Regions from separate parts of the Homo sapiens genome. Here region 1 is linked to region 2. Evidence: fine-mapped expression QTL. A gene starts in region 2. The other region holds a variant in brackets. All regions are shown on one strand. Distances are between the middles of the regions.

The links. PIP is the estimated chance that this variant, and not a neighbour inherited with it, causes the effect.
Region 1: its variant is fine-mapped to the expression of AUH in whole blood (TOPMed, PIP 0.99).

What each region holds. Positions count from the first base shown.
Region 1 is chr9:91,288,718-91,304,381 of GRCh38, forward strand. AUH (AU RNA binding methylglutaconyl-CoA hydratase) reads right to left here. Exons shown (of 10, transcript NM_001698.3): 5 at 9,267-9,359; 6 at 7,304-7,360. Among named protein-coding and RNA genes, the nearest start is that of AUH, 65 kb to the right of the region's middle. The variant C/T (reference allele first, on the strand shown) is at 6,822.
Region 2 is chr9:91,353,380-91,369,043 of GRCh38, forward strand. AUH (AU RNA binding methylglutaconyl-CoA hydratase) reads right to left here and starts at 8,539. Exons shown (of 10, transcript NM_001698.3): 1 at 8,249-8,539; 2 at 2,709-2,776; 3 at 2,504-2,591. The coding sequence starts at 8,510. RefSeq lists silencers at 8,270-8,709, 11,454-11,654.

The DNA of each region.
Region 1 (15,664 bases), 65 kb before region 2:
TTCCACATTCCTTCACGTCTTTCTTTTTATTGCACTATATACTTTTAATAGTCATTTGATACTAAACAATATTCTTTCTAATAAAAACTAAAATTGAGCCTTCTAAATTAAAAACTACATGATAGCAGTGGTCCATTAATATGTTCAATAGAAATATTACCATCTCTTCAAAGTCATTATTTTATAATAGCATTTTTTTAATTTACAAAACATACCTTAAAAATCAACATATTGCTACGCAGGTCAAAGCTCAGGTAAAGAAAACAAAACAAAACAAAACACTATTTTTTGACAAATTGTTTTGCTGTGAACTGCTATCAGAAAAGGCCAGAAGTGATGATATGACAATCAATAGCATCACATTAATTCTCTTGTCTTTATCAAATGTACAGTAAATTCAAATAAGGAGATACAATTTCATTTGGATTAACTTACAAATGCTGGCCAGTATGAAATCATGGACCTGTAATAACTTAGCAGAAGATTATTTGCCAGATTTTAAACATCTGTTTTCTAGAGTGGCTACAATTCATGTATTTTACCCAAAGATATTTACTTTCTACATAATATTAAGAAGAAAAATTAAGCATCTATTTTTTCCACAATATTTTCCCCATATTTGAATTCTCCCCACTTATTTTCTATTTTTTTGGCTGTCAGCACCTGCTCATCTGGAAAAGAGGAAGAGCTAAGGCAGCTACAGTGGAGCAAGGCTCACTGGCAATGGCCAAGCCTTCCCTGCAGAGTGCACCCCTGGCTGCTCATACAAGCTTCTATAATAGGAGGCAAGTGACGCATTTTCTTTTAACCAAAAGAGATCTACCAAGAAGGGAGAAAAAAATTAAATACAGTCTACTGTGTCTATTATAGAAAGCTCTTTACAACATTTAACAGAAATGTTTATACCCAAAAGGAGGATATCTCAGAGATCACTTTAGGCATGGCAAAATTCACCAATTTAAAAACACAATTTTTGAAAAAAGCAGTCTTTTCATATCATCTACAACAAAGGAAAGAGGAGAAAGGAGATGGCAAAAATATCTATGGATAAAAAATCTTCTGTGGATGGAGCAGAAGAAGATTTTTCTACATAAAAATTTCAGAATAGCTCCTTTAGGTAATAAACACAAAAACGTATTTTTAAAATAAAATCTCTGCTGTTTCAAAAGAACAGGCATCACCTAGGGTACTTTAAGAACTGTAATATTAATTTAAAAGTAGACCAAAAATTCTGTGCATCTCTTATCTAAATGTGAATACTATTGAAATTTTTATTAATAACGAAAATGAATCTGATTTTCATTTACATTAAAAAATTCAAAGCTACATAACATTTTATGAGCTATGAACTTGAAAGCTTCATGGTATTAAAAGAGGAACTAAAATACATTCCTCAAACTCACTTAGGACAAAAGAGGTCAGAGGCAGTGGCTCATGCCTGTAATCCCAGCACTTTGGGAAGCCAAGGCAGGAGGATTGCTTGAGGCCAGAAGTTCAAGACCAGCTTGGGCAACATAGTGAGACCCTGCCTCTACAAAAAGAGAAGAAAATTAGCCGAGTGCAGTGCTGTGTGCCTATAGTCCCAGCTACTCCAGAGGCCGAGGTGGGAAGATCTCGAACCCAAGAGTTTGAGGCTGCAGTGAGCTATCATTACATCGCTGTCCTTTAGCCTGGGTGACCAAGCAAGACCCTGTCTCCAAACAAAAAAAAGAAAGAAAAGAAAAAGACAACCATCCTTTGTAAGTACATGGGAATATGTCAAAGCATTCTGACTTTTATGACAAATTTATTTAATAGAAACTAGAAAAATAATTCTATTTGTCAGAATATGTAGTCCAAATTCAATCAAACCTACAAAAAGTAGGTTCTAATTAATGCAGCCACTATTGCAGAGGACTCTAAAGAACTTAAGTATATTGGGAAAAAATTCTAGTTTCTAGACCTCATATGGTATGGCACAGTGAGTTCACAAGACAAGACAGAAGAGGTTGTTATAGCATAATCTATCTTTTCTCATCTAATCAAACCAAACACTGCTCTCTATCTTCTGGTAGTTGTAACACAAAACTTTTCATAATCAAGTCACAGTAAATATCCAAATTACCAAGTTCATCTTGCTCCCTCCCCAAATTTCTGCCACCTACTAACCCCCATCTGTCCCCAAAAATCATGTAAACATCACCAAAAAGTCGCTGTATTCATTGCTATAACAAATTGCCATAAACCTGGTACCTCTGAACAACTGAAATTTATTCTCTCTCAGTTTTGGAGGCCAGAAATCCAAAATCAAGGTGTTTGTAGTGTGGTTCCTTCGAGAGGCTCTGTGAGAAAATCTGTTCCATGCCTCTCACCCATGGCTTCCCGTGGCTGCCGACAACCCTTGGCATTCCTTGGCATGTAGATGTATTACTGCACTCTGTTTCTGTCTTCGCATCACCTTCTCTTCTTCTGTGCCTTCCTCTTTCTTATAAGGACCCCTTGTCTTTGGATTTAAGCCTCTCTCAGATAATTCAGGATGATCTCATCTTGAGATCCTTAATTACACGTGCAAGATGCTTTTCCTTCCAGGCTGACATCTCTTGGTGTCTGTTGGGGGGGTGGGGGTGGAGGCGGCATGCCATCCAACCCACTACAGCCACTATCTTTCTATCTTCTAGGATTAATCACATCCTCATTACCAACAAATGCTTACTTCTCAAAAGAATTTCAGAAATATGTCACATCACCCTTTTGCTAAATTTTGCTTTATTTCACATATTAGTTATCTGGGAATTCTTTTTAAATTGATCCACTGTCTTATAAATCCTTCTGGTGTTTTTTATTAGTCACAGTGAAAAAGGCAGGCATAATAGAGTAAGTATATATTAAATGTTTTGGCCTACAAGAATAACATTTTCATCAATTACCAAAGTAGAAAACATGGGGAGTCTTACACATTCATCTGGGCAGTCTTCAATTTCACTGTAACCTATGTTTTAAATTTCTACCTATCAGAATAAATACTCTTTTAATGATAAGGTTAACCACACAATTTTAACCAATTCATATGCAAGTATGTCTTCCATGTTCAACACTGAGTTTAATATTTACATTGTTACTGTTGTTTCATTCATACTCTAAGCATCATTTAGCATACATAAAAGGTACCATGAGCCAAGATTGTGCCATTGCACTCCAGTCTGGCGACAGAGTGAGACTCCGTGTCAAAAAAAAAAAAAAAAAAAAAAAAGTTCCAAGGAAGGTTACTATAACATGCATATCCTTAAATGAAGTCTACTTTTTGAAAGAATGACTTCACAAAATGGGAATGCCTCCAAATTCTCTGAATCAAAAGACCAAAAATTTCAGATTTATTGGGTGATGCAAGATTTCATTATCAATTTTGGAAAGATGTTTTCTTAAACGGCTCTTTCAAGAACAGAAGCTCATCTATTTTTTTCATAGGAATAGAAGAAACAACACCTCTTCAGCTCTAAGTTCAGGCTACCCACTAACCGCAACTTTTGTCCCACTGCAGAGAAACACAAGAAAGGTGGTACAAAGCCTGGGAACCCTCTTTTTTTTTTTTTTTTTTTTGAGACGGAGTCTCGCTCTGTCACCCAGGCTGCTGGAGTGCGGTGGTGTGATCTCGGCTCACTGCAATTTCCACCATCTGGGTTCAAGCAATTCTCCTGCCTCAGCCTCCCAGGTAGCTGTGATTACAAGCACGCACCACCATGACTGGCTAATTCTTCTATTTTTAGTAGAGACGGGGTTTCACCAGGTTGGCCAGGCTGGTCTCAAACTCCTGACCTCAAGTGATCCACCCGCCTCGGCCTCCCAAAGTGCTAGGATTACAGGCATAAGACACCGCACCCAGGCACCTCTCTTCTTCTTCCACTTGGGGTTTCACTGTCTGCATGAAGCTGTTGGTGAGGACACACACATTTAAATGCACGCATAAAAGCTTTAAAATATTTGTGTAATCCTTTAGGAAAATAGATCCAAACAGTGACAAAAATGTAATTAGCACAGTAACTTAAAACTTAAGAACTACCATCTTCACTGTCTACGTAAGCTAAAAATAGGGCATACAGGCATACCTCATTTTGTCGTGCTTCCCTTTATTGTACTTCACAGATACTACATTTTTACAAATTAATGGTAACCCTGCATCAAGCAAGTCTATTGGCACCATTTTTCCAACAGTATGTGCTTACTTCATGTCTCTGTGCCATATTTTGGTAATTTTCACAATATTTCAAACCTTTTCATTATTGTATCTCTTATGGTAACCTGTGATCATTAATCTTTGTTGTTACTACTGTAATTATTTTGGGGCACCATGAACCACGCCCACATAGGATGGCAAACTTAACCAATAAATGCATGTATTCTGACGGCTCAACCAACGGGCTGTTCCCCCATCTCTCTCCCTTTCCTTGGGTCTCTCTATTCCCTGAGACAAAACAGTATTGAAATTAGGCCAATGAATAACCTTCCAGTGACTTCTGCAGTGTTCAAGTAGAGCAAAGATCCACACGTCTCTCACTGGAAATCAAAAACTAGAAATGATTAAGCTTAGTGAGGAAGGCATGTCAAAAGCTGAGATCAGCCAAAAGCTAGGCCTCTTGCACCACTTAGGCTTAGTTGCCAATGCAAAGCAACGTTTCTTGAAGGTAATTAGAAGTGCTACTCCAGTGAACACAGGAATAAGAAGAAAGCAGAATAGCCTTATTGCTGATATGCAGAAAGTTTTAGTGGTCCGTAAAGAAGATCAAACTAGCCACAACATTCCCCTAAGCCAAAGCCTAATCCAGAGCAAAGCCCTAACTCTCTTTAACTATAACTCTTAACTCTCTTTAATTCTAGAGTTAAGTCTGAGACAAGTGAAGAAGCTGCAGAAGAAAAGTTGGAAGCTAGCAGAGGCTACTTCATGGTTAAGGAAAGAAGCCATCTACCGTAACACAGAAGTACAAGGTGAAGCAGCACGTGCTGATGTAGAAGCTGCAGCAAATTATCCAGAAGATCTAGCTAAGATCACTGATGAAGGTGCCTACACTGAATAACACATCTTCAGTGTAGACAAAACAGCCTACTATTAGAAGAAGATGTTATCCAGGACTTTCATAGCTACAGAAGAGAAGTCAATGCCTGGCTTCAAAGCTTCAAAGGACAGACTGACTCCCTTGTTAGGGACTAATGCAGCTGGTGGCTTTTAGTTAAAGCCACTGCTCACTTATCATTCCCAAACTTCTAGAGCCCTTAAGAACTATGCTAAGTTAACTCTGCTTATGCTTTATAAATGGAACAAATAAAACCTGGATGACAGTGCATCTGGTTTCCAGCATAGTTTACTGAATACTAAAGCCCACTGCTGAGACCTACTGCTCAAAAAAAAGAGTTCTTTCAAAATATTACTGTTCAGTGACAATGTCCTGGTTACCCAAGAGCTCTGACAGAGACAGACAAGGAGATGAATGTTGTTTTCATGCCTGATAACATAACAGCCATTCCACAGCCCATGGATCAGTCTACTTTCAAGTCTTATTATTTAAGACACACATTTCAGGCTGGGCGTGGTGGCTCACGCCTGTAATCCCAGCACTTTGGGAGCTTGAGGCAGGCAGATCATGAGGTCAAGAGATCAAGACCATCCTGGCCAACATGGTGAAACTCCGTCTCTACAAAAAATACAAAAATTAGCTGGGCACGGTGGTGTGCACCTGTAGTCCCAGCTACTCAGGAGGCTGAGGCAGGAGAATCCCTTGAACCGGGGAGGCAGGGGTTGCAGTGAGCCGAGATCACACCACTGCACTCCAACCTGGCAACAGAGCGAGACTCCGTCTCAAAAAAACAAAACAAAACAAAAACCACATTTCATAAGGCTATAGCTGCCATAGACAGTGATTCCTCTTATGGATCTGGGCAAATTAAATTGAAAACCTTCTGGAAAGGATCTGCCATTCTAGATCCCTTTAAGAACATTCATGATTCATGGGAAGAGGCCAGAATATCAATATTAACAGGAGTTTGGAAGATGATGATTCCAATCTTCATGGATGACTTGGAGGGATTCAAGACTTCAGTGGAGGAAGTCACTACAGATGTGGTGGAAAGAGCAAGAGAAATAGAATTAGAAGAGTAACCTGAAGACGTGACTGAATTTCTGAAGTCTCATTATAAAACTGGAATGGATGGGGAGTTGCTTCTTGTGGATTGATCTGGTTTGGCTGTGTCCCCACCCAAATCTCATCCTGAATTGTAGCTCCCATAATTCCCACATGTTGTGGGAGGGATATGGTGAGAGATCACTGAACCATGGAGGCGGGTTTCCCCCATACTATTCTCGTCGTGGTGAATAAGTCTCAGGAAATCTCATGCTTTTTTTAATAAGGGGTTTCCCTTTTCCCTTGGCTTTCATTCTCTCTGGACTGCCTCTACGTAAGACATGCCTTTGCTCTTCCTTTGCCTTCTGTCATGACTGTGAGGACTCCCCAGCCATGTAGAACTGTGAGTCCATTAAACCTCTTTCCTTTATAAATTACCCAGTCTCGCATATGTCTTTATTAGCTGCATGAGAACAGACTAATACATGGACAAATAAAGAAAACAGTTTCTTGAGATGGAATCTACTCCTGATAAAGATGCTGTGAACACTGCAGAAATGACAACAAAGGATTTAGAGTATTACATAAACTTAGTTGATAAAGCAGTGGCAGGGTTTGAGGATTGATTCCAATTTTGAAAGAATTATGAGTAAAATGCTATCAAACAGCAGCGCATGCTACAGAGAAATCTCTTGTGAAAGGAAGAGTCAACTGATGTGGCAAACTGCACTG[C/T]TGTCCTTGGAAATTGGCACAGCACCTCCACACTCCAGCAACCGCCACTCTAATCAGTCAGCAGCCTCAACATCAAGGCAAAACCCTCTACCAGCAAAAAGATTATGATTCTTTGAAGGCTCAGGTGACCATTAGAAAATTTAGCAATAAAGTATTTTTAAATTAAGATATGTACATTGTGTTTTTAGACATAATGGTACTGCATGCTTAACAGACTGCAGATAGTGTAAACATAACTTTTATATGCACTGGGAAACCAAAAAATTTGTGTGGCTTGCTCTATCGCAGTATTTGTTTCATTGCGGTGGGGAAAATCTGTTAGGTATGCCTGTAACTTGAATGGGGACTTTGCTAGGGATGCAAACAATATGCCATTGTCTCTTTACGCAAAATGTTGCCTTTCCAATTAACATGATTTTGCCTTATGCCCTGTTTCTAGGACCAAATCAAGGATTTGAGGAATGGGCGTGAACTACTCATACCTCCACCAGGAATAATCGCCAATTTTGTTTCAACCAGGCCCATTTTTGCAGAGGAAGCTAAAACGAAAGAAAGAAAATTAAGTATCATCCATATCATCACATTCAAATATGACAACTTGAAAAAGTTATGAGATATACTAAAATATTGTTTACTAATTAAATTGATATCACAAATTCTTAAAAAAAATCACTTAAAAGGCATTGTTATGGAAATAAGTAAGCACTCTAAATGACATGTATTAGGAGAGTCCCACAACATTTTCTGTTAAAAACTGCTTGGCAGTGAATTAATTTTTGATTCACAAGACCAGGACTGTAACTCCATTATTAGACCCAATATTGCCAAGACATATTTGGAGGCATAGATCTATTAATTATTCAGGATCAGCAGACTTGTCAGTATCTGACAAGCCCAAATTCTTCAGTTGCCTGAATATAGTCCCCCAGACCAAAGAGCTTAATAGGTCATATCAGATATGGCAACTTTTCAAGACCAAGTCTTTAGTTACCTTCTGACAAATAGTTTTACTATTCTGACAGGTGGACAGGGTTCCTCTTTTCATGTCTGTTTTCATGGCTACTTTAAAACATCTTAATAACTTCTTTATTTGCATATCCAAATATACTTAGACTACTTCCCATATTCTAATTTCCAAAACCTGTATTCTTTCAGAAATGGATTACATGTACCTTAGCTTTTCAATTTAAAATCCAATGATTTCATTACAAGAAAATAGGTTCCTAAAATGAAGTGAAAAGGAGGAAAAAGGACACATGGACTAGCAACCAGAAATCCCAAGAAACTGAATCATGTTGACGCTACATTGTTCTAAAAATTTAAAAAATCTTTTATAAAGATGAGGTCTCCTTATGCTGCCCAGGCTAGTCTTGAACTCCTGGCCTCAATCAATCCTTCTGCCTTGGCAGCTCTGCTTTTAACATGCAGCCACATCAGAAACGATAATGGAAAGCAAGAGAAGAACAGTGACAACTCTGTGCCGTCTGCTGTGCCCAGTTCTCAGTCTCAGAGCCCGAGGACACAGGCAGAGCTGAGTCTCTATGGATATAGTGTCCACAACGATGAATATGGGAGATCAGTCTACGTTGCTCTCATGAGGTAACAGGTGTGTGGGCTGTGGCCAAACAGTCTGGGTTCAAATCTCAGTTCAGTCACTTCTTTGGGGCTTCTCTCCCTTCTCCAGTTTCCTCCAGTGCCCCAAAGTACCTGCTCTGAGGGTTGTTATGCAGATGGAGTGAGTGAATACATGTCAAGTGCTAGAATAACACTGGGTGCCTGGACTGCACACAGTAAGCAGTGGGCACTAATTCTTTTCACTCTTTTTCTATTCACCTCATAAGATCCTCAGAAAACCATTCAGGAAGAAAGTGGACTTCAAGGAGATTCAGTTATCATTACTGTAGCAAATGGTGATTTAGTACTTAGATTAACATCCACAGATTAATTGCTTAATCTTCACAACAGCAACAGTCATTTCCCCCATTTCCTCTAAAGAGGAAGATATTGGCCTAAAAAAGGGAGGACCTCAGATTCTTTTCCTTTTTTTCTTTCCTTTTTAATTTTTTTTTTTTTAAACAGGGTCTCCCTCTGTCACCTGAGCTGGAGTGTAATGGCACGATCATGGCTCACTGCAGCCTCAAACTCCCAGGCTCAAGTGATCCTCCCACCTCAGCCTCCCAAAGTGCTGGGATTAGAGGTGCAAGCCACGCGCCTGGTCCAGGACCTAAGATTCAAACTCAGTTCTACCTGACCCAAATCCTGGCAAGAAACAACACAAGACTTTTTTCAGGTGGGAATTTCGAAAACACCATTAGGACCAACAAGTGACTTTTTGAAAATATTCTACTCAACAACAGGAAGCAGAATAAAATATTTAAAATTACCTGAAGAGTAAACACAACCTTCACTTTTTTAAATTATGTTTTTAACAGGATTAATTCTTACCTGCTACTCGTATATCACAGGCTAAAGCCAGTTCAAGACCACCACCTAAAGCGAGTCCATCTATTGCTGCAATTGTTGGTACTGGAAGATTAGCTGAAATGGAAAGAAAATTTTATGCTTCCTTAATAAGATTATTATCTCACTGTGTAATTCATTTTTAATTTTTTTCTGTGAATTTATGCTTTAAATGGGAGATCATATACAGACTTTTGTATCCCTTTTACCTTTAACAAAATATAAGCATTTCCATCATTATTCTTCAAAACATTATATAATTACTGTATAGTGTTCCATCACATGTATGTGCAATATCTTTAAATCTTCCCATATTATTGAATTACTTTCATAAACATTTTTTGTTGAATTAACAGAATCACAGTTCTACGATTTCTTAATCTTAGAGCCAGAAGTCTTTCACAAGATGTTTGGTTCATACAAAGTTCAAATTGAAATGACTTATACATAATTGTGAAATTTATGATCCTTTATGGGCTACTTCAGTGCTTGGAATGACAGAGTCTCATTCAAAGAAAGACATCTGCTCAAACAAGAAAGAAACTGTCCAAGTAGTTGCTGTGGCATTGGCCCGTGAGCTGTCATTTAGTGAGGAGCCCTAACATTATGAATGGGAGCTGGAAAACAATCAGGCTCTTCCACTTCAGAGGCAAGATGCCCTGAGAACCTGCTCACAAGCATGCCTGGAAAGGGGTCAGCCAGTCACAGAACTAAAAGCTCAACTTGCTTGAATCCAGAAATTGAGTATTATTTTAATACAACTTTTGTAAATTATGACATACAGATTTCATTTTCATAACCAGTTCAAAAAGTGACTGGTTTTATTAGTTATTCTGAAAAGCAGAACTCTATTAATTTTATTTCTGACTATGGGAATGTGAAGCAAGGCTGGCCAATGTTAATATATAACAGAAAGTGGATTTTAAAAAGGTAATATCGGCCGGGCGCTGTGGCTCACGCCTGTAATCCCAGCACTTTGGGAGGCCGAGGTGGGAGGATCACCTGAGGTCAGGAGTTCAAGACCAGCCTGGCCAACATGGTGAAACCTCATCTCTACAAAAATACAAAAATTAGCCAGGCATGATGGCGGGTGCCTGTAATCCAAGCTACTCAAAGAGGCTGAGGCAGGAGAATCGCGTAAACCCAGGAGGCAGAGATTGCAGTGAGCCAAGATCGTGCCATTGCACTCCAGCCTGGGTGACAGAGTGAGACTGTCTCAAAAAACAAACAAACAAACAAAAACAATAAAAAGGTACTATCCCCCAAAATCTCTCTCTTCCATTCTGATATGTAAAATCCCCCAGAGGCTCACTCCTTGACTCCTTTTAAAATATACAAATTTGCTGAAGTACACTGAGTTTTATTCATAAATAAAGGAATTCATCACTTATTGAAGATCAAGTCTGAAAAGGCCAGGAAGGAGCACATATACACAGCTGCCGCCTGAAGCACTCCCAGAAGAGCAGGCGTGGAAGGGGCTTTTGCACAGGCAGTATTTCACTATCTGTACCTGTCTGAACATTTAGGGGTTGGGGGTGGGGAGGGACTTGAAAGGACAGGACAAATTCAAAATGTGCTTTCCAGAACACTTAGTGAAAAAAATAACAGCTATGTCAGGGTTTGCAGTCTGGAAATGAGTTTAATGTGCAAACAATATCTAGTGAATTTTATCTGGAAAAAAGAAAAGAAAAATCAATAAAAATATAAAACAGCAAGTTAAACTGAGTCCTTCCCAAGGTCATCCTGAGCTACTACAAGTAGAATGTAATGACTTTGGTTACCGACTCTCAACTCCTCTTCCTTCCTAAAAACCTGTCTAGAGATCATTTATTTCTAGACCTCCTCAACCTACTATCTCTCCAACCTCAAGTCTCACCCGTCAGAAGCCTTCCTTAGGCCTTGCTAAGGCCCTCCAGCTCACCTCCTTTACAGACCAGCTTCTAAGAGGAGTAGAGTAAACCCATGCCACCATACCCATTCACCTCCAAACAAGCAAGACCATTCTTGTTCCAGTTACCAATGACATTATAAGATTGTCCTATAGCCAGTGGACAATATTCAGTACCTATTAAATGTACTGCCTCAAAAGATCAGAGACATCCATCCTGGACACTCCCTCCTTGTATTCCTCCCTTCACTGCCTGCTGGGTCCCTCATTTTTCCTGCCTTTCCATCTACCTCTGGTAATTTCTCAGCCTTCTTCCCCTCTCAATAAAAGCTCTTCCCAGGAGATCTCATTCTCATCCACAACTTTTACCACCTATACTACCACCAATGATTTCCAGATCTCTACCTCAAACCCAAACAGCCCCCTGCCTGTTGGACATACCCACTTAAATACTTCATGTGTCCAAACCATTTCTTCTCAATCCTTCTTCTAGGCTGTATTTCAGTTAGTAGCACCTCCATTCATCAAGTTACTCAAGACACTCAGAAGTCATCCCAGATGTCCTCCTTGCCAATGCCCTTTTCTACCACCCAAGTTCTGGGTCCCATCATTTCTCACCAGCAGGAAGTACCTAATTAATCTCCTTCACCTGCAATCTGCCACCCTTCTATGCATCTTCTACCTTTCCTGTAGGGTAATCTTTCTAAAATGTAAACACAGTCATGCTATTCCCCTATTTAAAACTGTTCAATGATTTATTCTACCTTCAGGATAGAAATGGTGTAAACATTTAGCATGGCACAGGAAGGCACCTGGAACTAAGTTCTGCACACCTGCCTAATCTCTTCCAAAACCTCAGATATTCTGTTCCAGCCCCAAACTACTTAAAACAGCTCCAAAAGTCTCCATTCAAGACTCAATATCTGTATACAAGGTGCAGCTCTGCCTAGAATGCCTAGCTAGCCCCTACTTGTCTGTCGAGGCTCAAATGTCCCTTCCTCTATGCTTACATGGCACTCTGTGCATAACCTTTTCTATCAGAACATTCATTACCATACAGCCCATATGAAACAAAAATTAACATCACATCAATGCTACTCAATAACGTTCTTACTAATCTGGGACAAACCTCACGGTTTTTCACTGCCTCTTCCTCCTTTATTATATTAATCCTGGTATTTTGCCTACTTTTCTTTTTTTTATTAACTTCTTTTGTTTAATAAAGAAATAAACATATGCAGTCCTATGGAGCTAAAGAAAAGAAAAATTGCCAAGAGTTCTAAGATGGAGAGAGCAGAAGCAGAGAAAGAGTGGGTGCTCCCTCCCTGCTACGTAAGTGCTGAAGTCACTCAGCAAGTAGCTGCTGGAGGCCGTGATATTATGAAATACATATTTGGTCTTCATCCCTGTTTCCAGACACACAGCTCTTAAAACCCTTGGAATCTCTGGAGTGATAAATGCATCTTTCTTATTTCTCCAATAAGTTTATACTTTTTGGAATTAATAAAAACTATTTTTAAGTCTAATAGGAATTTGAGCCAGGTACAGTGACTCATGCCTGTAATCCCAGCATTCTGGGAGGCCAAGGACGAACGATTGCCTGTGCCCAGGAATTCAAGACCAGCCTGGGAAACATGGTGAGACCTCGTCTTGATTTTTTAAGAAAGAATTTGAGAAATTATGTTTCTAAAGAGGATGAAAATTGTGTGCCCTTGAGAAGCTTAACAATTCCAGGGCTTGTTTCCTTTTGTGCAGGCCCACACCAGGGTCACTGCAAAAAGAGCCAGCCTAGGTGCCAAGAGACATACCAGAGGTGAGGACCAGGGCCTGCAGATGGAAGACAGGAGCTCCAAGAGCAAGTCTCAGGCACCATATGCCTTACAATTTGTAAGAAATACGTAACACAAAATGATGAGAAATTTGGGTTCCACATACAAAAAGAACAAGAAAAATGGGATACTAATTCTCATATTATTAAATAGGTTAAGCACTGGAACTTTAAATTATTAATTAACATAAATTAGCCTTGTAGAAAGCTGTCTATAAAATGTTTCTAACTAAAGAATTAAGTAAAACAGCTTAATTCGTATTCAATGGGTAATTAAATATTAGTCATTTTACAATATTATAAATTCTAAGGCTATACATCATCCTAATTATTCCCTAAAAGATGTCTGTCGTAGTAAATTTTATCCAGGAAAGTATGCATCATCTCAAAGCACATGCCAGTCTGATATATGTGGTTTCTTTACATCTAGTATTTCTTCTACTTGGGAGCACTTAATAATCAAAGAGGGGGCCGGGTGCAGTGTGGCTCATGCCTGTAATCCCAGCACTTTGGGAGTCCAAGGCAGGTGGATCATTTAAGGTCAGGAGTTGGCGACCAGCCTGGCCAACATGGTGAAACCCCATCTCTACTAAAAATACAAAAATTGGCTCACGCCTGTAATCCCAGCACTTTGGGAGGCTGAGGCAGACAGATCACCTGAGGCCAGGAGTTTGAGACCAGCCTGACCAACATAGAGAAACCCCATCTCTACTAAAAATACAAAATTAGCTGGGCGTGGTGGTACATGACTGTAATCCCAGCTACTCAAGAGGCTGAGGCAGGAGAATCGCTTGAACCCAGGAAGTGGAAGTTGCAGTGAGCTGAGATCGCGCCATTGCACTCCAGCCTGGGCAACAAGAGTGAAACTCCATCTCAAAAAAACAAACGAACAAACAAACAAAAAAATTAGCCAGACATGGTGGTGCGTGCCTGTAATCCCAGCTACTGGGAAGGTGAGGCAGGGGAATTGCTTGAACCCTGGAGGCAGAGGTTGCAGTGAGCTGAGATCGTGCCACTGCATTCCAGCCTGGGCAACAAAGTGAGACTCTGTCTCAAAAAAAAGGAAAAAAAATGTTAATAATCATAGCAGGAACTCAATAAAATACACCTTTAGAAAGGTAGATTATGAATTTCAAAGATCTAAAGGAATAGCAAAATGACAGTTGTATATAAGCACAAATAAATGAAACAGGAACTGCGAATCCAACGAGCAATGGCTATTCCCAACAGCAAGAGGAAGAAATTATGACTCAGTATGTTATGCAACCAATAGGATCAGATACTATTTTCAGTTTCGTACCAGGAAATGAGCCAGGTATGACAAAGAAGATAATAATCCTTTGAAATGCTCCTAAAAATATAATTAAAGCAAACAATTAAACAGTTTGCTATTTTAAGAGGGAAAAAAGCAACTGTAAGGCAGGCCCCTGGTTCACTTCAGTAGTCTGTAGGACCTGCAGCCTACGATAATTAGACTCAAGGGACTATGAAAGTGGGGAAAATTAAAGTATCTACTTTCGATTCTCAGATAAATACAACACATAATGTAGGTTATTTGATGCTTCTAGAAAAATATGAACAATTTGATTATTAAAGGAAAATGTTAGTGTCAGACGCATGATTTTTTTTTTTGAAACGGAGTCTCTTGCTCTGTCGCCCAGGCTAGAGTGCAGTGGCGCAATCTCGGCTCACTGCAAGCTCCTCCTCCCGGGTTCACACCATTCTCCTGCCTCAGTCTCCCGAGTAGCTGGGACTACTGGTGCCCGCCACTACGCCCAGCTAATTTTTTGTGTTTTTAGTAGAGACAGGGTTTCACCGTGTTAGCCAGGATGGTCTCAATCTGACCTCGTGATCCACCCGCCTCGGCCTCCCAAAGTGCTGGGATTACAGGCGTAAGCCACTGCGCCCAGCCCCACAGGATTTTTAAATTTGGTTTTGCTTGAAGAATAGTGTTCCTACAGAAAGCAGTGAAATCAAGCATTTCAAGGGAAAGGCCCTATGTAGCATTATGCTGGAAGTCTGAATACTAAAATCTTTCAAGAAGAATAGAAATAAAATCTAAGTTAACTGAAAATTACAATAAATACCTAATTATCTTTCATTTTGGCTAAAACTTTACCTTCATCCTAATGTATATTCTCCCATTCCCATCACTGAGGTTTAAAAAAAATCACAATAACAAAACAAGCCCTGAGTGAGGCCTGCAGGCTGGCTGGGCTGTTGCTCCCTGGAGGCCCACACCAGGGTCATTGCTGCAAACATAATACCACAGGTGAGAGATGGGAGTTCAAAGTGAGAAGTCTCAGGCACCACAGACCTTAAAAGGAACACATATCCAAAAGCCAAAAGTAACAGTATTTAAATATGACACTTCGATTCTAGCACTAGGTTAAAATCTAAATGAAATGGAAAAATTCTACAAGTTGTTGTGAAGAAAAACTAACAGATGAAGAGCAGCAACATTCCTTACAGAAAGGGTCATTATACCAAGAACAAATTGCTGGAAGCTAGCATTCCCTCTCACATGCTTTTTTATACAAGCCTGTCATAGTAATTTCAGGCTGTATGGATTCACACAGAAAAGAGGACTAAATTTACTTTTTTACTAGGAAAAAAAGAGAAAAACTGCCTAGAAACAGCATAAAATAAGTAATCAATCCTCGATTT
Region 2 (15,664 bases):
CAGCAGAGGTTTCTTTTAATATTACTACTTTGGAGTACAAATTAAAGCTTTAATTATGTGAAAGACCACATTCCTCAACAATAACTGATAAATGTGGCCTGATTAAGATGTTTATACTAATATAGGCTGTAAGTTTAAATATTCTTTAAATAATGTAAAGAGATTTTATTTACCTATAATTTTATTTCATATGTACATGTTAAAAGACAGACCTCTTTGGGAGGCCGAGGTGAGCGGATCACGAGGTCAGGAGATCGAGACCATCCTGGCTAATACAGTGAAACCCTGTCTCTACTAAAAATATAAAAATTAGCCGGGCTTGGTGGCGGGCGCCTGTAGTTCCAGCTACTCGGGAGGCTGAGGCAGGAGAATGGGGTGAACCCAGGAGCCGAGATCGTGCCACTGCACTCCAGCCTGGGTGACAGAGCAAGACTCCGTCTCAAAAAAAAAAAAAAAAAAAAAAAAAAGACAGACCTACTGGTCAGCTTATAAATGTAAATACATGTAAAAAAGAGGCCATGTGTGGCCTGTAATTCCAGCCCTTTGGGATGCCGAGGCAGGTGGATCACCTGAGGTCAGGAATTCAAGACCAGCCTGGCCAACATGTTGAAACCCCGTCTCTAGCAAAAATACAAAAATTTAGCCAGGCGTGGTGGCGGGCATCTGTAATCCCAGCTACACGGGAGGGTGAGGCAGGAGAATCACTTGAACCCAGGAGGCAGAGGCTGCAGTGAGCCAAGATCGTGGCACTGCACTCCAGCCTGGGCAACAAGCGTGAAAGTCCGTCTCAAAAAAAAAAACAAGAAAGGAAAACCTTTCGGAGAAATCTGAAAGAACAGTTCCATCATATACACTGAATTACTAAAAGAGAATGATATGCCCCAATTTTTCTATAATTAAGACACTGACTTTTGTTGACAAAATACAGTCACAAATCTTGAGTTAAAAGATTATCCTGATTGTACGAAAGTTTAAAAGCACATAAAGCAAAGTAAATAGATTAAATTAACTTGTTAAAAAGTACTCAAGGCTAACATGTTATTCTAATAAACAGCATGTGGTATATTATTTGAGGACATTTTGCATGTCCTCAAAAAGGCAATCTGTAACAGACATCCACAAACTGTGCTAAAGCATTAAAGCTTTTTTCAAAGTATATTCCTAATGCAGAAATCTAGAACAAATGGGCTGCAAAAGAATATGTAAAATAAAAAGAATTCCACCAGTAACTATAGTGCAATAATTATAAAACCTACTGCCAACAGAAAAACAATGCCGGGATGACCACTAACACTTATTTTTAAAATGTTAATCTGTCTTCACAACATTGATATCACTCCTCAAAAATTCATATAATTGGGCCTTCTTTAAAAACCCTAAAGCTACTCTGTATCTTCCCAATAAGCCATCCAATGACCTTTAGAGAACCTCTCAACCATCAGTCATGTGTTATACTCCTTTACCTCAAGATCATATTCACCTGGTGAATATGATCTAGACATAAGAATCCTAATTCTCTTGATATAAGTCTTTCACATTGTTTAAAAAAACAAAGAACTCAAAATATACATAAAACCCTTATAAGCACTCCTACTAAGCAGACAGTATTACTCACATTTGACAAATGTGAAAACAGAAATCTGTACTGCATAACACCATAACCCTAGCAGCTGGGAGTAATAAACCTACACTCTTTGGTTACTCAACTGGAATTAAAACTAATTCTTTTCGGTATCCTACATTTTAAGAAATGTATTAAGGAGGCAATAAAACCTTATCAAAAGCCAAAATACACTGCATATTTCTAAATATCACACTATTCTGCAATATTTTAAGGCAGAAGCCACAGAGATTGAAGCTTTAAAAAATTGAGAATCCTTAAGAATGAAACTAGGGGCCAGGCACAGTGGCTCACCCCTGTAATCCCAGCACTTTGGAAGGCCAAAGATGGTGGGTCACTTGAGGTCAGCAGTTCGAGACCAGCCTGGCCAACATGGTGAAATCCTGTCTCTACTCAAAATACAAAAATTAGCTAGGCGAGGTGGCAGGCGCCTGTAATCCCAGCTACTCGGGGGGCTGAGGCGGGAGAATCACTTGAACTGGGGAGACGAGGGTTGCAGTAAGCGAAGATCACGCCACTGCAGCCTGGGTGACAGAGCAAGACTCTATCTCAAAAAAAAAAAAAGAATGAAACTAAAGAATATTGGCCACAATTAAGACACAACAAACAACATTGTACTACATGTACTACAGGTACTACAAACAAGTATTTTAATGGCTCAAAGATTTTTTTTCAACTTCCAAAACAATCTAAATGTTGCAAAAGCTTCTTTCTAATGCTGACAGACTAAGCATGTTTTTTTCTTGTGAATCAGTAAAACACAGACAAAGAGGAGTTGTTGGTAATGGGGTTCAAACCAAAGAACATTCTAATGGAAAACAGATTACTATTGAGGAAAAATCAGACTACAGTTTAATTTCATAATACAACATATTTACATACCAGCACAGAATATCCCTGGGACTTCACTCCTGATTATTATGGTCCGTACTTTCTTATCAGATTTCAAAGCATCCACAGCTTTTGATAGCTAAACAGAAATAGGAAGCATAGGAGGAAAAAGAGAAAAAAAAAACAAAACATTTTTACATTGATGACAATAATATATCTTAATATTAGAAGCAAACAGTTTAATCTTTACACTCACCATTTTTATAAGATTTTTACTGAGTGAATTTTTGCCATAAGCTCTGTTTATTCCAAGCACCACAATTCCTAGTTAAAGGGGAAAAAAAGTACAAGCACTTGAGTGAGCAAGGCATTCAGAGAACAGACTCTACATCACACATCTAGCTAGCTTCGAACTTAACAAATCAAAGAAATTCATGACATCACGTTCCCTTCAATCGATCTCTTCTTAAGCACCAAGATAATTTGCAACATTTTGGTAAATTTTACATCACTAACTCAAACTAGAGGGAAGACTAGACTTATTAGTGAAAATTTTAAGTTAAAGGATACTATTTAAAATGTGGTTTCATCATCTTCAAGTAGATACCAAAGTAACCGCTAATAAACCTTGTCACATGCAGGTATTATAGCATCTGCTTTTTCTAGGACCAGTTGTTAATATCTCCATTTTTTTGTTGTTCATACTACACAGTTTTCAGTAATTCTATCCCAAGCTTCTCTCCTGATTTCTGTCTGATATACTTAACCTGAGGGCACTTCCATTTAGATGTCCAAGAAGTACTTCCAACTCAACCTATACAAAACAAAGTTCATTATCTCTCCCACAAACCCAGCTGTCACTCCTAACTGCCCCACTTTTTAATCAAAGACCATCACCTAAACCCAGCCTCCCATTCCTTCCAGTTACCAATTTTCTAAAAACAGTACTATGCATAGAATGCATCCCCTACTTAAAATCCTTTCATTATTTATTTCAAAATATCCAACTTCAAAGATCCTAATTTGATATTCAAAGTTCTACACAACCTCTACTAACCTTCTTGTTCTTGGAGTAGACAAATTTTCACAGTGTATCAGAAATACCTTCCACTGAGTCAGGGTGGGTATGTTTCTTATTTGCAACTGAGCTAAACTGAAGACAACAAAATGTACACATGCCTTCGCTGTGCAAGAAACTGTGCAGACCCATTCTTTAAAGTATAAAGATGAACTTCTGCTCACAAGAGTAAATTTGCAAGAATTCCAAATGCTCTCAGTACAGAGAAAAGCATAAAGGACTGCTATCTGACAGGATCTGTATTAAACAGCTGAATGACTTTGGGTAGGTCCCAATACTACTGACAACAGCTACCACCAGTAGGCCTCAGGCACTGCTCCAGGTGCTTTAAGCGAATTAACTCATGTAATCCCCACCACAACCCAAGAGGTGGGCACTACTTTTATCAATAGTTAACGGATAAAGAAATGGAGACTTGGAGAGGTGAAGTAACTTCCTTCAGCTATTAAGTGGTAATCTAACTCTATACTTGAATAAAACTGTGTTACACTGTTCAAGCTTCAGTTTCCTCAGGAAGAAAATCAAGCAGCTAAGACTAGATGTGTCCATTCATTCAAACATACTGAGTACGTACTATAGTGATCAGCAGCCATGGAACTAGAGTCTAGGAGGGAAATACAAACATTAATAATCATAGAAATCATTAATAATCATAAATATCATTAATAATCCATTCAAACTGCTTTACAAGCTGTAAGTGGTGCTACAGTAACTTGTAACCAGAATTGATAATGGTCTGGGGCAAAAGGAGATGGTTAGGGAAAGCTTACCCCAGACAGTGAAGGTTAGAAGGATAAGTAGGAGTCAAGGTGAGAGTGAAGGAGAGGGGCTGACTGCCAGGCAGAGGAAACAGGAAAAGCATAAACTAGTCATGGTCCCACTGAATGTCCTGTAACCTACGAGGGGGAGAAGAGAGTGACCAATGAAAGTAAAGAGGTCAGCACAAGCCAGAAATATCCTTACAGACCTTCTAAAAAGTCTGGTCTTCATCCTAATAACCATTGAAGGAGTTTACGTAGGTATAAACATATACACATGCACATATAAAACTGGCGGGGGAATAGTTTCTATACTTGGAGATCATACCAGAAGTAGACAGGGGTGGGAGCTTCAAGACACAATTCGAGTCCAATCAACAGATAACAGGTTTGGCTGAGATTGGTGGTGGTAAAAATAAAGGAAAGTGAAAGGATTCAAGAACTATTCAAAAATTTTAAATGAGTTAATGATGCCTAGACTGAGGACTGATTTAACTGGAAGAAAGTGTTAAGGAGTATTTACCAGGTTTCTGGCTTCACCAATTGGATGAAAGATGACATTTAATGAGACAAAATCATAAAACTACCAAGGTGAGGGTGGAGGGGAGTAAAGCTCATGAGTTTCTGTTTTTAATTAAAGTGAATCTGAAGTGCCTTTCAGACATCCAAGTTGATACAACGTCCAAGGGCTAAGAATGCAGGCTCTAAGGTGTGATTGCTGGGGATGAAATCCCAGTCTGCCGCTTACTAGCTATTCGGCAAGTTACTTAACCTCTGTGATCCTCAGTTTCTTACTCTATTAAGAATTCGGCAAGTTACTTAACCTCTCTGATCCTCAGTTTCTTACTCTATTAAGATACTAACAGTTCCACACTCCATGGGACTGTATTAGAATCGAATGATATGATACATGTAAAATTTACAACATGAGGACCCAATTAACCTCCCTTCTAGCATGAACACCTCTCATGCAGTAAGTATTAAAAGTTTCACCATAATTTCTGCTAGATATGATAATGCTGACATTATTACTGAAGGGTAAAGTGCCATCAAAATGTTTCTAACACAGTTAATTCCAGCAATTTTGGTCCCATATCTGAGACTTGATGTTTTGAGTACTTCCACTTCAAAAAGCTAGAAATTAGCTCTGCAATCTGAAATGAATTATCTAATATGTAACAACTGTACCATCAAATGTATCTGTAGGCTTTTGGTATTCTAAAATGGAATAAAACCTTAGCTTTATTCAGCAAAGTCTAAAAGTTTTTTTTTATAACTGTCTCACTTTAATTCACAATTCAATCACTTCTCAAGAACTCAATTATCATGCATCCTCCTCACATAACCTAGAAAGTTTACCAAACTCAGAAAAGCTTAGGCGTTCACATGCCAACCTTAATTTTCCTGACTTTTCACAAAACATACAAAAATCTTCAGTGAATCTGTAACAAGGTCACATCACAGCATGAATCCTGCTCTATAAAGCTCACACAACTGAAAGATGAATGTAACAACTTTGCTGAGACTTTAAAAACAAAACAAAATACGTTCTGCTTATACAAAATGAAAAAATACACTCAAAGTGAAAGTCCTCCTTCCCTAGAACCAGCTCATTCCCTTCCCCAGAAGAAGCCACAGTTATCACAGTTACATGTAATGTAACCTTCCAGAAAATGTTCAACGTATCTACATACAGAAATAGAGTTGTATATTACCATTTGGCTTGTTGTTGCTATTTTACATAAATGGATCATATGTTCTGTTGGAGCTATTCTACATAAATAGGTTCATACATTTTTTCTTTTTTTTTAAGAGACAAGGTCTTGTTGTGTCACCCAGACTGGAGTGCAGTGGCTCCATCATAGCTCACTGCAGCCTCAAAGTCCTGGGCAGTCTCCATCTCAAAAGAAAAAAAAAGAAAAGAAAAGGAAATTTGGTTATAGAGCTATGCCTCCTACAACAAATTACAAATATGGAGCCCAGATAACAGATGAGACCTGGTGTATTCTGCACTACTTACCCCCACCCACCTAAAGTGCTGCATGCTGTTTGAGGCTCCTGTGACTAGGAGAGTTATCCTATTCCTTAGAGGCTGCTGAGAGCACCAAATTTTGGACCCACCTCTAAGAGAAATAAAGGCACCCAGGAAACTCCTTCACCTGTAGTACCCTTGACCTCATGTTTTTCTTTGCACTGCTTATTGCTGGTTCAACAGTAAAGCAAAGCAAAGCCTAGGTAATGTTAGCCAAGCCTGAGTCGTCATTCTTGCCAATTCTCAAAGGAGGCGGGGTCAACTTTAAGAAACCATGATGTATGTCCTATCTCATCAGGAAATCAAGGCTAAAGAAAAAAAAAAAAAGAAACCATGATACCCAAAAAAATTTTCGTTTATTATCTTTTATTATCTGATATTCTCTCTTCTGTCCATTCAGATCCTAACTTAAAGTCTGTCCAGACATTCTGCACAAATATTCCTTTAATTGCATTCAAGTCATAACGACCAAAAAAATAGAATATGGTGCATATTAGTAGCTGTACTTGCAATCCCTTTATATCTAACATATTGTTGGTACACTTAACGGAAGTGAAGTCCCGGCATGACTAAGCTTACCCAAAAGATGATGGCATTCAGGCTCTAATCACTCCAGTGCTAGTCTATGCTTCCAGCTGAATTTCTTACTATTCTGCTTATGCCACACTTGCCTTATGTTACGTCCCAAATACACCACACATGTTCACATCTCCATGCCTTTGACCATGTTCTTGTCTCTGTCTGGAATAATAAGTAAGGAATAAAGTCATTCATCACACTCCTGAAGCACTGCTACGTGCTAGTGGCAATTTACATTAACAATCTCATCTCATCTTCATAACAAACCTATAAAGTTGGTATTGTTTTTCCTGTTTTACACGTGAGATAAGTCTGCCCAAGAACCCTCACAAATGGCAAAATCCACTGCCTATTAAAGAATGCCTTGGAACCCCTTTCAAATGGCGAAACCCTGCAGGTATTACAGCCCTTTCCTCTTACCATGCCTTGAAAGTTCACACAGCCTACTAATAACCAGGATCTGCTTCACTACACTAAAACCAATCACGACTTACACGCTTTTCACTTCTGCTTAACAGATTATAGGTGCTCAACAAATGCATGTCAAAATTAAAACACTGGTCCTCTGGCTTAACCCGGAGGTTAAGGGTGGAAACTGCTATTCCACCCTTCACGACCCTTTTAGCTTTTCCCTGCACTGCCAGTGAAAGGAACTGAGCTGTAACAGTATTCCCTAGGATTGTCAGCCTCCTTCAAAGCCTTCAAAGCTCTGTATTGTATTGCTAATGATGTCTCCTCCCGTAGAAGGTAGCTCAAGGGCAAGATCCATACCATCCACATTCTTATCGCCAGAGCTGAGGAAAATAAAAAGTGCTCAAAATTGTTTAAATGAAGTGGAACAGTCCCTCAAGACTAACTTTCTAAGAGAAAATGAACAAGAGGAAAAATTGTTCCAGCTGAGCAGCTTCAAATTTAAGATTCTCCGTAATAATAAAAGGCAGTTTCACCGCAGCTTTTACAACTCCACCACTAATAGCTGAGTTTACAGAAAGCCATTACACAGCAACAATAAAGCCTGGTAGCAAGGATTAAATCCCCAGGGTATATATTGACCTTGGCTTGTCTGGAGCGGAGGGCGTAAGCTGCACTTCTGTTTGCCGCGCTGAATGCGGTCACTTTACAGGTAAGCTGCTCGGGGGTACACGTTTAGGTTATTAAAAGCAAGAAATAGGTGCACAAGGAAGCGGCCACGCTGGGTGAGTAGGGAGGTGAGAAAGGGGAGGGACCCAGGTTCGGTGCGCCTGCCTGACCTCGACCCCGCGTCCTGCCGGCGGACGCTGCACCTTATGCCCGTCCTGAGAGCGAGCGGCCGCCCGCTGCCCCGCGCCTGCCCAGCGTTCGCACCTCACCTCGGTTCTCCTCCTCCAGGTGCCGCACCCGCAGCTCGTCCTCCGTCTTCATCTCAGAGCTGTAGCCCCTTTTCGGGGCGGGACCCCCGGCCGCAGGTACCCAGCCCTGGGCCCAGATCGCCGGGCCCGCTCGCCGGCCTGCCAACGAGCCGGGCAGCCTCAACCCCGGGCAGAGCCACGCACTGCAAGCGGCCACCAGGCGGGCGCCGCCAGCATGCAGGGATCCCAAGGCCCCAGGTGCCGCCGCCACCGCGGCCGCCATGTTGTCTGTTTACGGCGTGGACCTGCGACGGCCGCTCCGCCCCCGCCCGGCGCCGACCTGCCGCGCGCACGCGCACGGCGTCCGGACCCGCCGCCTCGCTCCGGCTTGGCCCCGCCCTCCGGAGCCGTGTTCCCGCCCCTCACTGCCCCGCCGAAGCCCGGTGACCCGAGGCCTTGCCCCATTCTCCAAGCGAGATTGGATGGTTTGTCCAATACAAAAGGAAAGAAAGTAGTTTTCCAAGGTTATGGAATAATTCAGGGAAGACTTTTCTATAAGAACCACCCGGAGGGAATTATCTCCCCGTACTCCCTGGACCATGCCCTGCGGTCCTGTGTTAAGTAAGCTGCAAAAGTGAACAAAAAAGTTTTGTCTCCTCAAGTTGGCTGAAAGTGTGGCAGCCCATCGTTGGTCACTGCCTTACTTATGGATCTCAGGTTGTTGGTTTAGCGTCCCTGATAAGCATAAATGATGTTTACTACGTGGCGTTCAGGAAAAGGATGAGAACAGCAAACAGGCAAAGGAGTTCTTTCTCCAGCCCACCCACTCGTACCGATGTCCCATGGCCCTTCCTGGACGGAAAGAGTCTTACAGGGGTTCAAACAAGCCATACGCTGAGATGGGATTTAGAGTATGTAGCTCTTCCAGAAACTCGGGATATCAATTTAGTGTGTAGGTACTCATCAAAGCACGTTGCAGTATAATTAATGCTACCTAGCTTTTATCAGATCTCTAATGGGAAAGCTTGCATTTAAGAATACTGGGCAGGGGGCGGTGGCTCACGCCTGTAATCCAAGCACTTTGGGAGGCCGAGGCAGGTGGATCACCTGAGGTCAGGAGTTTGAGACCAGCCGGGCCAACGTGGTGAAACCCTGTCTCTACTAAAAATACAAAATTAGCCAGGTGTGGCGGCACACGCCTGTAATCCCAGCTACTCGGGAGGCTGAGACAGGAGAATTGCTTGAACCCGGGAGGCGGAGGTTGCCCTGAGCTGAGACTGCACCATTGCACTCCAGTCCAGGCAACAAGAGTGAAACTCTGTCTCAAAAAAAAAAAAAAAAAAAAAAAAGAATACTGTTTGAAAAGTGTGCTGCTATGAGCATACGTCTAGTGCCACAGAAATTTCTTGTATTTTTTAGTCCTAAGCAAAACATCCTTCATTATGTCCTCAACTTTTATCCAATGTAGAAACAAAAAGTAGACTGAATTCCATTACTGCATCTGCTGTAAAATGATGTTGAAGGCACTTTTATTTTTATTTTTATTTTTTATTTTTTGACAGGTTCTGGCTCTGTCGGCCAGGCTGGAGTGCAGTGGTGTGATCGCCTCTCGCTGCAACCTCTGCATCTCAGGCTCAAATGATCCTCCCACCTCAGCCTCCTGAGTAGCTGGGATCACAGGCACACACCACCACACCTGGGTAATTTTTGTATTTTTAGTAGAGATGGGTGTTTCTATGTTGGCCAGGCTGGTCTTGAACACCTGACATCAAGTGATCCACCCAACTTGACCTCCCAGAATGCTGGGATTACAGGTGTGAGCCACCATGCACAGCCCACTTTTTATTCTATCTTTTGTAAAGTTCCATGCAGGAAAATTTTCCTGAAGTTTACTACAAGGAAAACTTTGCTTCCTTTGTATCTTTCCTCTTTTCTGATAATGATGTACATGTTGACTGCTGGGTGTTGTGATTTTTATTGTTATGGTTTCTTTCTAATTTGGTCTTGTGGTCACCAGAGGGAGGGTAAATCTGGAGGTGACAGGGAGTTCAGCCAGTGGAAGGGGGTCAAGGAAGGGGCACTTGTGGAGCTAAAGCCTCTGTTGGGGTCCAGCGTGTTACCCAAGCAGTTTCCCATGGAAGTTCTAATTGGTGAGTTTAGAACAAGCAGGCACAAGTTCCATGGAGTCACCCTGTCACTGTGAGGTGGTCACTGGAGCCCATCTACACAGTCCATGTGGGTTATGGAGGTCAACAGGTGAGTCAAGCAGGCTGCATTTACCTGTCCCATAGGGAGATGGTCACCAGGAAGCAGTTGCATTAAGCAGATATCTGGATGGATCACATTGAAGAACTGGGAGGAAGCAGAGAACTGGAAACTGTATCAAAGGTGATTGAGCCCTGCTTCTCATATGAGAAAGTTAAACATATTCAAAATGGATACCAAGGCAAAATAAAATTATGAGAATTACTGTACTAGAGATGGCAGCGGCTGCTCCAGACGGCCTACTGCTGCAGCAGGGAGGCATGGCCAGGGCTGCACGCTCTCTGGCGGGAGCCAGGGACAAGCGGGAGACCCACCCCTTCTGAGTTGGGGTGGGAACTCCCTGGTTGCCTCTGCAGCACAGCTGCAGACTGGGGCCTCCTGCTCCACAGAGCAGGCAGAAGCACCACCCAAGGTGTGGCTGCAGATCTGAGCCTCCCTGTGCTCTTAGGGGGCCAGGAGCAGGCAGGAGCCCTGCCCTCCCCGAGGGCAGCTGTAGCCACCCAAACCACGGCTGCAGCCCCAGGCATCCCTGCACTCTTGGGGGCCCAGGAAGGCCCTGCATGCCCTCACAGGCTCAGAAATGCCTGCTCCTGCTGCCTGGCTTCTCCCTGCTGTTGGCACCTGCTCCATTCTTGGAGCAAAGTTGAGGCTGAACCCAGGCACCATGAATGGCAGTGGGAGGCAGACAGACTCCTGGGCAGAAGGGGGTGGGTCCCCAGTGAGGCCCCAGCTTCTGGCCAAGGAGGGCCTGAAGGCTGGGGGTTGGGCTGCCAGCCCCATGAACCAGAGTGGGAACTTGTGGTGCCTTTTCCGAGCCTGCCCATGGCTGCCCATGGACCAATCAGCGGCAGGCACTTGCTCCCCTCTGAGGCCCATAAAATCCCCAACTCAGCCAGAGCTGAGCAGATGATGGGACAACCAGCTGCAGAGAGGAGCTACCCTCTCAGCTGAGAGCTTCAGAGACTTGCAGAGATGTCAGAACTACCAGCTTCAGAGAGGAGTGACCCTCTCCAGGGCCTCCTCTCTGCTAGGAGCTGGGCAGATGTTAGGACAACCAGCTGCAGAGAGGAGCTACCCTCTCCAGGGCCTCCTCTCTCCTAGGAGCTGGGCAGACTTCAGGACACCCTGCCTACAGAGAGGAGCTACCCACTGCGGGTCTCCTCCGAGCTGTTTTAATGCTCAATAAAGCTTCTCTTTGTCTTGTTCACCCTCCACTTGTCTGCATACCTCATTCTTCCTGGACCCAGGACAAGAACTCTGGCAAAGGTGCCACCAGCCACAGAGGTTTCTGGCCAGGAAATCGACACCTCAAAGGTTCCGTAACACTAGGAAACTCACAATTGTATTTACAGATCAACCATTGCAATTATTGCAATTATATAATTACTGTTTATTAATATTGGTCTCCAGTTGTTTTGATATCTTTATGTCGGTTCATCAATAGATGGTAAATTTAGAGAAAGCAGTTATACAGAGCTCCTGACAGTGCTATTTAAAATAATATAACTTCAGATAATACTGATAATTGACTAGGACAGCTGCAGAAAGATAATCATAGATTGTTTGGGTTATAGAAGAAAACAAAGGACCACCCATTGTTTCTAAAGGCATAGAGCCTGATGGAAAAAATGCAACATAGAGGACTATCCCCTTCCCTAACATTTGGGACTCTCGTCCTTATTTGCAATAGTCATGCACGTATCTCAGGTCTGTGACCAAAGTTGATTCTTAAAAATTAATGCAACTAATAAACATCACCATGACTATCACAACCTGTCAAGCATGACAACTAACAGCAAATTGCCAAATATCAGGAATTTAACAAATTCCAAACCAAATAGACATGGCTTTGGATCCCTGCTCTATAATTGCTCCACTTTGAGACATCAGTGAGTTATTTAAATACTTCATGCTTCCTCTTCTTCATCTGCAGTATAGCTAATATATCTATTTCACTTTATGAATTCTTTTTTTTTCTTTTTTCAGACAGAGTCTCACTCTGTCACCCAGGCTGGAGGGCAGTGGCGTGGTCTCACCTTCTGGGTTCAAGTGATTCTCCTGCCTCAGCCTCCCGAGTAGCTGGGACTATGGGCAGGCACCATCATGCCCAGCTAATTTTGTTTTTTCTTTTTGTAGAAACAAGGTTTTGTCACGTTGGCCAGGCTTATCTCGAACTCCTGACGTCAGGTGATCCATCTGCCTCAGCCTCCCAAAGTGCTGAGATTACAGTCATGAGCCACCATGCCCCACTGAATTATCTTCAATTCCTTCACCTATAAAATGAGAATAATTATGCCCATTTATTGGGTTGATAAGTATGTAAAACACTTGGCACCAAGAAAGAAATAGAGCAGCGTGGAAATATTAGCTACCATTTACCAACTTCCTTCTTAGTCTATTTAAGAAGGCATTTCGCTGTCTTATTTAATGTTCAGGAAACTTTCAAGTTGGTATTACTACCCCCATTTTTATAGATGAGGAAACTGAGATTAAGTTACTTACCAAAGACTGCATCTGGGAAGCCATGGAGCTGGAATTCAAATACTGATACATCTGACTCCAAAGCTCATGTTCTTTTTCTTTTTTAAAAATCTTTTAATTTTTTTTTTTTTTTACTAGAAACAAGGGTGTCACTATGTTACCCAAGCTGGTTTTGAACTTAGGCTCAAGCCGTCCTTCTGCCTCAGCCTCCCAAAGCGCTGGATTATATGTGTGAGCCAGTGGGCCCAGCCAAAGCCCATATTCTTAATCACTAGTTAGAACAGCCTTTCAATAAATGTTAAGGTACTCAATAAAATGTCATGACCTCTGGAATTTCTACTTTTCAATGAAAGATTGTCAAGTATGAAACAGGAATAATGAGTATCAGTTTGGGAAAAGGCGGGTAGGGCTTGTTGTTTGAAATGAGAAGAGTATAGCCAGGTGTGGTGGTGTGCATTGGGAGGTTGAAGCAGGAGGATTGCTTGAGCCCAGGAGTTCAAGGTCAATCTGGGCAACATAGCAAGACTCTGCCACTGAAAAAAATAATAATTAAAAAAAAAAGGAAGAAATGGCAAGAGTGAAAGAGTGGAAAAGCTGGAGTATTCAGAGTACTACACCCACTAATCTCCTGACCTGCTTCTACTTCTTCTACATCCAGCAGAACTGTGAGGCAAACAAACCTCCTTTCTTTAGAAACTACCCAGCCTCAGGTATTCTTTTATAGCAATGCAAAATGGACTAAGGCAAGGACCAAATATCTTTTTCTTAGTATATCACGATATCATAAGCCCCATGGTGGCCTTTCACTCCAGAAGGTCTTTTCCCATCTAGTCTGAGTACTTACCTCCAAAAGGAGGGATTGGATGTCAAATCCAGAAAATCCAATCTCTAGAGCCTTGAAGGGATCCAGTAAGCCTTACCCAAGGACACTACCCCCAGAGAAAAGGTATGTTTGAAGACACCCTCTCTCACTCTGCCCTGCAGAGACTCCTTGACCAGACACTGCAATCCACCCCCACCAAGGTATTGTAGGTCTCATTTTAGGTAGCAACCATGTGTGCCTATGAGCTCCATGACCTCTGGAGAAGAGTAGACATTATACAGACAAGTAAAGAGAGGCATAAATTACTGAAAGTTACATAGCTAATAAATAACAAAGCTGGAACTGGAACTCAAACACTCCACTCCAAAAACCTGAGTTCTTAATCATGACTTTCTTTTGTTTGCTTTTCCTAATTGATTGTAAGGGCTTCATCTTCTCCACCACTACTCTGACCCCAATCAGTAGGGAGTTTTATCAAGCCCTTCTATTATCATTTCATTTGGAAATTTCACCCACTGCGTTGGATCCTGCATGGTCACGATTTCCCAGATACTGCTTCTTCCCCCTGACAATTCCATAGTTGCTGATTGTGTATACGTGCATACATGCAAATATGCAAACACATGTGCCATGTCCTGAAAATACAAACCTTCGTCATCTCAGGATGAGAGGGATGGGGAGACTAGGGGATGAGATCAAAAAGGTACATGGCATCTTTTGGGGATGATAAGGATGTCCTAAGTTTATTGTATGATGGTTGCACAAACTCTGAGAATATACCAAAAACCATTTAATTGTATATGTTAAATCGGGGGATTGCTTGGCATGTGAATAATACTTCAATAAAGCTGCTGCAAAAGTCAGGAGACAGGATTTGGGATCCTTGAAGAGATGACTGATTGAGTGTCTGAGACAGAGAAAAACTAGGTGAGATCAGAATATCTCCTTGTGCCAGAAAACACTGAAGTGCTCCACAATTGACAGAAATGTGAAAGACCACAGCTCGGAAGGGTTTCTACTGGCCTTGCCTGGGACAATTAGAATGTTGAAGAGAACCATGCTAGTAATTGATAGAAACATTTAGCATTTTTTAAAGATATCAGTGAACAATTAAGTAAATGGATGGCAGATGGTAGAAGCCAGTTTCTCCCTGTTGGTATGGGAGACTACAGATAAGCAAGGGAAGGAGGCCAGGATGATTTGTTTGATAAGGGTTTAGCACTGGAAACATCAGTATGAACTCATGTTTAGCTTAATATAGATATAGATGGATACACATAGAAACATCTACAGATAAGTACATATGCACACATGAGTATACACACACTCCTGCTCTGTCAGCTAAGATGAACTAGAAGCAATAACACACCATCGACAATGAGCACACCTAGTGTCAGATCTTGGTTTCTAATACCATCCTCCAGTAAAAAAGAATTCCCCATTGATCCTTGGAGAAATGGGTGATTCTAGGACTGGGGCAGGAAATATACAAGATGAGCCTGAAGGATGTTGTGGTGCCAGAAAATAAGAAAGTGTTCAAAATAACCCCAAAATGATGGGCAGATGTCAAAGAGATGCAGGAACCAACTGAGAGAGTTCCCAGTGGCCACAGCTGGAACAAGATGAACAATAGAATAAAGTGGCATAGCATGATATCCGAAAGCATAAAATAAATATCCATGTATACATACTGATACAGATAAATGATTGAATAGTTAAATGAGAAGAGACCAAACTCCCAAGCAGAAGAATTTCCAATAATTCATGTAGATACTCTGCCCTACCTGAGGAAGGTGTCAAAGATAAAGCCAACAGTAGTTAAAGTAGTAAAGACAGATATTAATCAGTGATATACTATTGTAATAACA